2 separate regions of the Homo sapiens genome follow, and region 2 is linked to region 1. The links come from fine-mapping of genetic effects on gene expression. A gene starts in region 1. The other region holds a variant in brackets. All regions are shown on one strand. Distances are between the middles of the regions.

Region 1 (5,363 bases):
GGGGACGTGATTCGGGAAACTGAGTCAGGCAGCCAGGACTTGGGTGGGAGGCTCCTGCATGGGGCACTCAGGGTCCTTCTGAGTCCCCCAGCCCACCCCACTGGCTACCCCAGACCAGGCTGGGCCTTGGGGGAACAGTGGGGATTACATTCAGGCTGAAGACAAACTGGAAAGGGGGTCCCCAGCTCCACTACAGGGCTGGGGTGGAGGGCGGGGCAGAGAGGAGAATCGCAGGGGAGGAGGGAGCCCCCTGCACTTGGGACTCGCTGTCCCCACTCTGGCCTGGGAGCTCTCTGCCTCTGTCTCTCTGCCTGTCTCTGTCTTCTCATCTCTGTCTCTTGCACGCAGCACCCCTGGATAGTTTTTAGTTTTTAGCCTCTCCGTTTTTTGGTTTCCACAGACAGCCCTCCTGGCTGGTCCTTGCCCTGTTCCTGGAGAAACTGAGGCCGAGTTAGCAATTCTCTGAGGCAAAGCCTGGACTGGGGTTCTTACTAACCCCCAACCCACCCCAGCAACCAGGATGTCTCCCAACCAGCCCTGATGGGGGAATTCCAGGGTGCACAGGCAGCCTTCCAACCTCCCCAGCCTGGAACAGCCTCCCCTCCGCTCAGCCCTCCCAAATGGCTCCTTCCAGCTGGTGAGGACAGAGCGGGGACACCTCAGTCACCCCACAAGCCCAGAGACTTCAAAGGCTGCCCGAGGTCACACAGCGTGCCCACTCGAACCCTAGTTGTTCTTGGAGAACTTCAAAGAGATGCCTTCTTCGGGAACCCCCCCCCCAAAGCTGCTCAGAAAGGGAAACTGAGGCTGGGACAGGGACTTACCCAAGGTCACTCAGGGGATCACAGGTAGGACAGACCTCAGACCCCCTCAGCACCAGCTCCCACATTCCCTGTCGGCTGCAGGGGGCCGGTGAGAAAGACCCTACCAAGGAGCATGCCTGGCGTGGGGGGTCCCTCACTGCACCATGCCCTGGAGCGGAAGCCGGGGACTCATATACTCCCCACACAGTGCTTCTTAAGACGGGCCTGGCCCTCGCTGGAATCGCACCCCCCACGTGCCGGGACTTTACAGTTTGCCCGCCATACTGTCCCCTCTCCAGAACCGGCCTTAGCCGCACCTCACTTCAGGGGAAACTGAGGCCAGAACCTCTCCAGCCTAAAGACACACTGCGTAAGGAGGAAAGCAGCGGTCTAGAAAACGGAACTTGCAGACCTCGGGGTCCCCGGGAGCCTGGGCTGGAAGGAGTCCCCGGGGGGAGCCGCCCCCTCCCCACACACCCCCTCGGCCATTGCACAAGGCTCGGCCCCGGGGCAGTCTGGGAGTGCGGCCAGGGGTGAGAGGCTACGGGAGGGGGAGGGGGAGGGGGAGGGGACGGGGCAGGTGCCGGGCTGGCGAGGGCGTCCGCAGCGCCGCAGTGCCCGGGCCAGACCCGGAGCGCCGGGCCTCCCGCTCCTCCCGGCGGCGGCTCCAGAATCCAGAATCCAGAATCCAGAATCGATGCAGCGAAAATACCGGGACGGTGCTGGGGGGCTTGCAAAGGAGGGGGGACCCAGCCGGGCCGCCGGAGCACCCTTCCCCCTCCTGGGCCTCCAACTTCTCCTGCCCCCTCCCCCTCCATGCACACGTGGGCCAATAACGAGGGAAAGGCGACCGAGGGCCAGGGCGGCCCGCACAACCTTGGTGGGGGGACACGGGGAAAACACATGAGAGGTCCCTTTCTCTCCAGCTGGGGAGACCCAGGGTCCAATCACGACCCCCTAGATTCCTCTCAGAGGCAGGCGGGGGGCTTCCCGCAGAGCCCTTGCTGGAGGGGGGCCAGCCCCCACCCCGACCTTTCCGAGTGTCGGGGCGGGGGTGCGGAGTGCGTCGGTGTGTGGGGGGGGGACGCAAATCTGCAGACCAAGCCCCACATCCGGGAGAGGTCCCGAGAGTCGGGGTTGGGGGTGCTGGGCGGGAGTCCCGCGTAGGGGGTCCGCGGTAGGTAAGGGTGTGGGGGGGGTACCCCAGCCTGACCCATCCCCCCACCGGACCCCAGCCCTCGGCGCGGGGGGCATCCCGGGCAGGGATGGCGGGAGGGACGCGCGCCTTTTTCGTCCCGCCTCCTCCTGCTTCAAAACTCCGGGGCTGGGATGCGGGGGGCGCGGGGGCGCCGGCGGGGGGCCGGGCGAGGACCGTACCTGGGTGAGGCAGAGCGGGGACGAATACATCCCGGGCGCGGCGGGAGGCGCAGGGCCGGCCGGAGCGGGCGCGCTGAACTTACTGAGTCATTTTTCCAAACCACCCCCCCGCCCCCCCCAACCCCCCCCCCCGCCCCGCGGCCGGCGCGCTCTCCTCGCCGCCTCCTCCCTCGGTCTCCCTCCTCCTCCCTCCTGCTCTCCCTCTCTCGCGCCGCCCGCCTCGCTCTCTGTCCCTCTCTCCCTCCGTCTCTCTCTTCCTCTCTCCCCCGTCTCTGTCTCTCTGTCTCTCTCTCTACCCTCTGACACCCTCCCCCTCCCACCCCGAACCTCCCACTTCTCAACACCCAACTTTCAAAGAAACGAGGGAAAAAAGGGCGCGAGCGAGAAAGGAGAGCCTCCCCCGACGTCTCAGGACCCCCCCGCTCCTCCCGTATTTACGCAATGCCCCAGGGCACTAGACCAGGACCCCAGGACTGCAGGGCGACCCCAATTCGGATCAAGCGGAGAGGGGGGACAGGGTTGTTTCTGGACATTGAGGGGCCAGGGGTGGATTTTTAAGGCCCCCCCTCCCCACCCCCCCATCACCCCCGAGCTGGCCGGGAAGTTGGAGGAAAGAGCCAGGGGGGAGGGAAGGAATGAAGAAGTGACGTGCGCAGAGGCCGGCCAGCGCGCCTCTTTCCCCTTAAAGATGTACGACCCTGGGTGCACGGTGAGCTGGTCCCACAGCACCCTGGCTCCCTTCTCCCCCCAGAGCCAGGCAGGGGCTGCGGGTCCCCAGCTAGAGGGGCTTGTGTGCAGCTGTCCCTTCCTTGGCCAGAAGGGCCCAGGCTAACACGGGAGGCTCCAGAATTTGCTCTCTTCACCCAGCACCCAAGGGGCAGGGGAGGGGTGGCCTCGCCTGTGTGTCTCTCCAGCACCCCAGGAGGACGGTGTCCAGGCGGGATCTCCAGCTGGCCAGATAAACCCTTGCAGCCTCCCCCTGGGTATCCAATAATTTCCACCTGCCTCAGGGGTGTGCCCTTTTCACAGATCTCAAGACTGAGGTATGGCAAGTGTGGCTTGGAGCCAGGCCATCTGGACCTGGAGCCCACATTCTGTTCTCCTTCTAGACGTAACAGGGCAGAGACCTGGCCTGCCTCCGTCTGAGCCCCCAGGGCATCTGATGACAGGGCCCCAACCCTCCCCCGGTTCACTCCCTGGATCCTCCCAGGCTAGCTCAGAGGCTGCTGTGTCTCTCATTCCCATCCCAAGGGTTCTCCCCTATAAAGTGGCTTAAAGATGCCCATCCTGTGGGATTGCTGGGGATAAGGACAATGACCTTAGCAGAGCCTTGACCTTGGGTCAAATGTTCACTAAAGACACATTCTTAGAAAGCTTGGCCATTTCACCTCATCTCTCTGAGCTTCCCAAGGACAAATGATACCCTCTCACCAAGCTGGGGCAGGTGCCCCAGGCCCAGGGGCGCAGAAGATACCAGCACCCATTATCCTCAGGCATTACAGGAGAGGAAACTGAGGCCCAGAGAACGGAAGCCACTTGCCCAGGGTCTGACAGGTAAACTAGGAGGGAGCAGAATTCCTGCAGCGTAGGTTCCCTAGGCCCCCCACAGGCTCCCCTCTGCATGACGGTGACATTATTCAAACAGTGCTTAGTACATCACGAACGGTCCATAAATGTGTGTGTCTGTGTATTTTAAACCCACTGTGCAGCTGTGGGGAGCATTTGAATTAAATGGTGAGAAGTGTATCTGGAAATCCACATACCAATATAACGTGAAGCAATTTATTTTATTAAAACACGCTAGGGACACATACAGGGTGAAATCTAAAATTCACAGATATTTAAAAGTTGCAGTTGACTTCAGACACTCCTCCTAGACTTCCAGACCCCGTGCCTTCCACCCTCCCTCCCCTGTACAGACCACCCTGCCTGCAGCCTTCATTCAGCAGCTTAGAATCCTTTGGAAGGTGAAGTTTAGAGAGCAGAGACTGCCCCTCTTGGAACCTCGGTTTCCTCATCTGTAAAATGGCTATAGTAACAGGATGCATCTTGGGAGGTGGGGAAGGTTGGAGTCTTTACATAGCATGTGGGAAGGCTGTGTGAATATTATTGGTGGCGGTAGCTGCAGGGAGAAACTTCTGCAAGTGTACGAACAGCAGCCTATATCCCAGTTTGGGTGGCAAGGGACCCCCGCAGCACACACAGTTGGTTCCCTAAATTGCCGCGTGGGCTCGCTGCTTGGGTCTATGTCTCCTCCAGTCAGCAGCTTCGTCTCTCTGCACCTCGGCTCTCCCTCTGTGAAATGGGGCGACGCCAGCTCATAACCCTCCAGGTTGTAGGCAAGTCAGCAAATACCTGCCCGTGGTTACAACAGGGAACTGTACGTCATAGTTTCTTTAAAAAGGCAATTGGTAGATTGGGACCTGCATGTGGAGGGCCCGGAAGATGGGTGCATGATTTAGCTCCTGGCACTTTCGAGCACAATCTGGCTCATTTTTTTTTTTTTTCAAAGCACTCTCTCTACAGTTATTTCACTCTTCGGCATCTCTGTAACTGTCCCAGATACAGGAGCACAAAAGAGTTGACTGCCACCTATAAAACTAATGCCCACAATTTGGAGGCAGCCATGCTGTCCATCTGTGGGGGACCGGTTTAGTAATCCCAACACAGGCTGGGACACTATGCAGCTGAGTAAAACCAGTGGCTCCCAACTGGTTATGTCCCCAAGAGACAAGTGGGGGGACAGAAAGCTGGAGAGCTCTCCCCCTTGGCACTGTGGACACTGGGGCTGGATCGCTCTCTGGGTTGGGGCCGTCCTGGGCCCTGCAGGGTGCTGAGCAGAGTCCATGGCCTCCACCCACTCCATGCCAGGGGCACCCCCCAGTCGTGACAACCACAAATGTCCTTAGACATGGCTAAGTGTCCCATGGGAACAGAATCAACCCTGGCTGAGACCCCACTGCTGTAGACCCAGCAAGGAAATTCAAGATCTCATTTAGGGTTTTAAAGAGTACACATGTATTTATACAAATATACATAGTATCCTTTACATACACACACATGCACACACACCCACACACACACATATCTCCTTTGGCCGGTTGTAGTGGCTCACGCCTGTAATCCCAACACTTTGGGAGGCCGAGGCAGGCAGATCACTTGAGGTCAGGAGTTTAAAATCAG
Region 2 (5,363 bases), 37 kb before region 1:
AAATAAATTAAATTAAATAAAAATAGAAAGGAATTCCAGTACGGACCCTGATCCTCCATAGAGAACTTCCTCCTCCCCAAGATGCTCTAAGGAGGGAAGCAGCTGTCAGTTTTGCCAGTGCTGTGTGACCTCACTAAAAGCACTCTCCCTCTCTGAGCCTCCACATCCTGACAGTGCAGATGACCTAAAACCCCTGCCCAGCCCTTGTCCATCGCCTGTCTGGACAAATCAAAAGAGGAAAAAACACAAGCCCATAGATGTTCTCCGCACTCCCCGCCCGCCCCAGGGACAGGGAGGAAAATCTGGATGTGACCTGGGGGGGCCCGAGAGGCAGAGGCGTGGACGGGGTGACCTCCAGGACGCTGGCCTCCATCCCGGGCCTCCCCGGCCTCGTCCTTCCTGCGTTCCTTAAGTCTGGCCCATACTTTCCATCTCCCTCTCCCCTGCCGCCGGGCCGCCTGGGCCGGAGCCAACCTGCTTCGGAATCACTTTCAAAGAAAAGTTTCTTTTTTCTTTCCACCCGGCCCCCGCCGGCTCCATGGCCTGGCTCCGGGCCCTCCCGGGCGCTGGTGGACGCCTCGGTGTCCTGCGGGTCAGGTCAGCGGCCACCACCGCCCCGGAACCGTCCCCAGCATCGGGCTGTTGGGACTGGAGGCCCAGTGCTGGCCTCGCCCTCCCCCAGGTCTCGGGCCCGCCTCTGGGGACCCCTGGGGACCCCGGTGTCACTCTTTGTGGGTGTCCGGCCTGGGCAGCGGGTCTGGAGGTCCCTGGAGGCCGCAGGGCCCCTGCTCGGAGGCCTGCGCGTAGGGACTCGCCCCGTGCTGGGGACGCTCTGGGAGGCCACGCCGCCCATGACATCATCCCTCTGGCGGCCATTTTCTCGCCTCTCCCTTCCCCTGTTCCAGATGTTTCTCCGGCCTTGGCGGCCATTTTGTAGGTCTGGGCGGCGCAGGCTGGCACCGGCCTCGGGCACCCGGCCCTGCCCTCCTGGGTGGGGTGGGGGTGGGGGGACACCAGGAGAAGGTGACAAGGGAGCCTCTGGGGCACCACTGGGCCCTGGGCCGCCTCCCCCAGCCCCTCTGCAGCCTCTGAGGGGTTAAACACGTGGTGCCAACAGCAGGGCGGCCTTGCCAAGCGCCCACCCGCGCACGGCCACCCAGGGCTCCCCACGCCTCCGCGCCCCCTCCCCATTATCTGCCACTCGGCACCAGCCACTCCAGGGATGTGAGGAGCAAGGTTAAAAATACCCGCACGCACACCCTCACCCCCACCCCCTCCCGGTCCCGCCAATGTCAAATGTGTCAACGCCACCCGGGGTGGGGGGGAGTGGACTGAAAATAACTCGCTGTTTACATTTGGAGCAAATTCTTGGCTTCCCAGCAGCCAAGCTGAGGCCTCCCCACACCCCCACCCCCAACACCTTCCTGGCAGGCCTGACTCGGCGGCTGTGACGGGGGGGGGAGAAGGGCAGGCCTCGGGGGGAGCCCTGGGAGCCACATGTGCCCACGGGCTGAACGCACACGCACGCGTCCCCATGGAGAGGTTCGGGAAGGGATGGGGGGAAAGGGGCAGGCCAGGGGCTGGGGGGGTGGAGAAGGGAGCCCCGGGAGCCACATGTGCCACTGGCTGAGCGCACACACGGGCGTCCCCATGGAGAGGCTCCGGAAGGGATCAGTGGCCACACGAAGCAGGCAGGGCCAGTCGGAAGCGCCCGAGGACACTCTCTGCCAATGTCGGGCACCGGGTGGGGGCAGCCGGGCGCGGCGGGGGGTGGCGGGAGGAGGCGGAGGCCCCTCCCGGCTTCCCCTTCCTTCTGATATTTCTTGGGGCGCGTCTCCAACTGGGCAGCCCGCGGGGAGTCCGGAGGACGGGAGGCAAGGCTGGCGGCCCAGCCAAAGGAGGCAGGAGGAAGGCGCGGGAGCCCGGGCAGGCGCCCAGGGGAGGGCTCTCCGCAATTCCGAGGCCTGCCCGGTGCTGTGTGGCTTCAGGCAAGCCCTGCCCCTCTCTGGGCCTCCAAGAAAAAACAAAATACCAAACGCCCTGGCTTTGGCGTGGGGTCAGGAGAATAGACTCCATGCCAGTCTTGCTTGGGGAGGGAGAGGTAGACACATCTCCGCCCTGCTCTGTGCCTCAGTTTCCCTTGCTGCAAAAAGTAGATGTCAAGTTGTAAACACATCAGATTGTGGAGTGTTCTGCTTTACAAAGGGGGAAACGGAAGATCCGAGAGAGGAAGGGGCTTGCCGCAGATCTCACGGCCACGCAGTTGGACAACGGAACTTGAACCCAGAGGTTTAAATGTTGCCTTGAATGTGGGAGGGGGCTGGAAACCAGAGGGCACAAACCTGAAAGGGGGTAGAAGGAAACTTTCTCCTTCCCAAGCTTTCATGTGGCCTCTCTCCCCAGAGCCTGCTACACAGGTGGTGCTCGATAAATGCTTTTACACAGCTGGCACTCAATAAATGCCTGCAGCCAAATGAGTGTGATTATTCCAGCAGAGCCTGGCACACAGTAGGCACCCAATATGAACTTGTTGCATGAATATTTGGGATTCTCCTGATAGGATCTGGTATACAGCAGGTGCAAAATAAATGCTTGTCAGGGAAAGGAATGTGAGGAACATTAAGAGATTTGGGGGAGTAGTCAAAGTGGAGGACTAGGACCACAGGCCCTGCACAACCTGTCCTGTCCGCTTTCTGCCCTCCCCTCTTCCCTCTCTCCCCCTCACTCACTCTGCTCCAGCCACAGGGGCCTCCTCGCTGTTCCTCCAATGCACCTGGCCCAGTCCTGCCTCAGGGCCTTTGCACATTCTGTTCCCTCTGTCTAAACAGCTAACTGCTTGCTCTCTCTTGAGATCTCTCCTGGTCTCAGCTCAAATGCTCCCTTCTCAGAGAGGTCTACGCTGAGCCCCTTCACCTCAAGCAGCCTCTGGC[T/C]ACCCTCAATCTCAGCCTTCTGTTTTCTTTCCTTCAGAGGAAGTTAGTGATTGCCTATGGATTTGCTTAGTTGCTTAGTGACTGCACGGGTGTTTGCTCATCTCCCCAGTGGAATGTCACCTCCTTGAGGGCAGAGGCTTTGTCTGTCTAGATCTCTGTTGTGCCCTCAGTGGCTAGAATAAGGCCTGATACAGACTAGGTGCTCAATAAATATTTGTAGAAAGAAAGTTGAGAGGGAGGGATGAGCAGAGAGAAAAAGAGAGACAAGGAGACATGGTACATGGGGGAGTGGAAGGAGGAGGCATGAAAAGGAAGGACCGTCTGGGCGCAGTGGCTCCAGCCTGTAATCCCAGCACTGTGGGAGGCTGAGGCTGGGTGGATCACCTGAGGTCAGGCATTCGAGACTTGCCTGGTCGTCAACATGACAAAGCCCCATCTCTACTAAAAATACAAAAATTAGCTGGCTATAGTGGCACATGCCTGTAGTCCCAGCTACTTGGGAGGCTGAGGCAGGAGAATTGCTTGAACCCTGGAGGCGGAGGTTGCAGTCAGCTGAGATCGTGCCACTGCACTTCAGCCTGGGTGACAGAGTGAGACTTCGTCTCAAAAAAAAGAAAAAAAAATAAGAAAGAAAATAAATGAGAATAGGCTGGGTACGGTGGTTCACACCTGTAATCCTAGAACTTTGGGAGGTCGAGGCGGTTGGATCAATTGAGTTCAGGAGTTTGAGACCAGCCTGGCCAACATGGTGCAACTCCGTCTCTACTAAAAACACAAAAATTAGCTGGGTGAGGTGGTGCACACTTGTAGTCCCAGCTACTCAGGAGGCTGAGGCAGGAGAATCTCTTAAACCTGTGAGGCAGAGGTTGTAGTGAGCTGAGATCGCACCACTGCACTCCAGCCTGGGTGACAGAGCGAGACTCTGTCTAAAAAAAGAGAAAAAAAAAGAGAATAACCCTGCCATGTGGGTGGCGTACCTGGGTTAGGGCTGGGACCCTGGCAGGAGCCCAGAGCCCCACGGGCCTCCCGGGCACCAGGACCCATATCCCAGCTTGCCCGCTAACAAAGTCCTGATTGCAGGAGAGCTCCCAGGCGTGCCCAGTGCTGCGCCGCTCCCTTCCCTGCATGTGCCCAGGCAGGTGCGGCTTGCAGGCAGGAGACGGGGCAAGGAGAGCAAGGGCCAGCCTCAGATAAGGTATAAACGACCCAGGTGAGCAACTGAATCCTCACACCGTCGGAGTTGACCTGGATTCTGCCCCCTCCTCTGCCTCTGTCCCTGCTACCGCCTGCTTGCACCAGGGCGGTCCACTCTGCCCTGGTCCCCAGCTCCTGCCCTCACCCCCCACAGTCTGTCCTCCCTGCAGCAGGCAGAGGGTGCCTGTGAGCACCTGAGTCAGGGCTGGTCCCTCCTCTGCCCATAGCCCTCTATGGCTCCCACCTGCCTTGGGGTCAAAGCCCAAGTCCTTCCTACTGCCCACCAGGCCTTGCACAAACTGCCCTCCCCTCCTCCTTCTCTTCCTCTCCTCACTCTGCTGCAGCCACACAGGCCTCCTCACTGTTCCTCCAAAGTGCCAGGTGTGTCCTGCCGCAGGGCCTTTGCACGGGCTGTGCCCTCTGCCTGGAACGCCTTCCCCCAGTTCTTCATATAACTGGTTCCTCCTCACTTCTCAGGTCTCAGCTCAAATGTCAGGTCCTCAGACAGCCTTTCAGGGACCTCCCCAGCACAGCCCATCAGCCTCTTTTCCTTTGGCCTTCTTTATTTTTCTTGATAGTCCTTATCGCTAAACTGACATTTATTTCTTTTTATTTTTATTATTATTATTTTTTGAGACGGAGTCTCGCTCTGTGGCCCCAGCTGGAGTGTAGTGGTACAATCTCGGCTCACTGCAACCTCCGCCTTCCGGGTTCAAGCGATTCTCCTGCCTCAGCCCCTGCCAGTGGCTGGATTACAGGCGCATACCGCTATGCCTGGCTAATGTTTTGTATTTTTAGTAGGAACGGGGTTTCACCATGTTGGCCAGGCTGGTCTTGAACTCCTGACCTCAGGTGATCTGCCCGCCTCGGCCCCCCACAGTGCTGGGATGACAGGCGTGAGCCACCGCACTAAGCCTAAACTGACATTTATTTCTTGTTCTTTGCCCATCGCCTGAACCAAACTGTGAGTTCCACGAGGGCAGAATTTTTTTTTTTCTGAGACAGAGTCTCACTCTGTCACCCAGGCTGGAGTGCAGTGGCGTGATCTCGGCTCACTGCAAGCTCCGCCTCCCAGGTTCACACCATTCTCCTGCCTCAGCCTCCTGAGGATCTGGGACAACAGGCACCTGCCATCACGCCTGGCTAATTTTTTTTGTATTTTTAGTAGAGACGGGGTTTCACCATGTTAGCCAGGATGGTCTCGATCTCCTGACCTCATGATCCGCCCACCTCAGCCTC

Evidence for each region. PIP is the estimated chance that this variant, and not a neighbour inherited with it, causes the effect. A credible set is the group of variants that fine-mapping cannot tell apart.
Region 2: its variant is the best candidate, but not a certain one, in a credible set for the expression of NFIC in whole blood (TOPMed, PIP 0.66).

Annotation. Positions count from the first base shown.
Region 1 is chr19:3,363,484-3,368,846 of GRCh38, reverse strand. It overlaps NFIC (nuclear factor I C), which reads right to left and starts at 2,264. Exons shown (of 11, transcript NM_001245002.2): 1 at 2,181-2,264. The coding sequence starts at 2,210. RefSeq lists silencers at 1,256-1,655, 1,946-2,095, 2,546-2,635.
Region 2 is chr19:3,400,236-3,405,598 of GRCh38, reverse strand. The region is part of intron 2 of NFIC (nuclear factor I C); the gene reads right to left. Among named protein-coding and RNA genes, the nearest start is that of NFIC, 36 kb to the right of the region's middle. The variant T/C (reference allele first, on the strand shown) is at 2,931.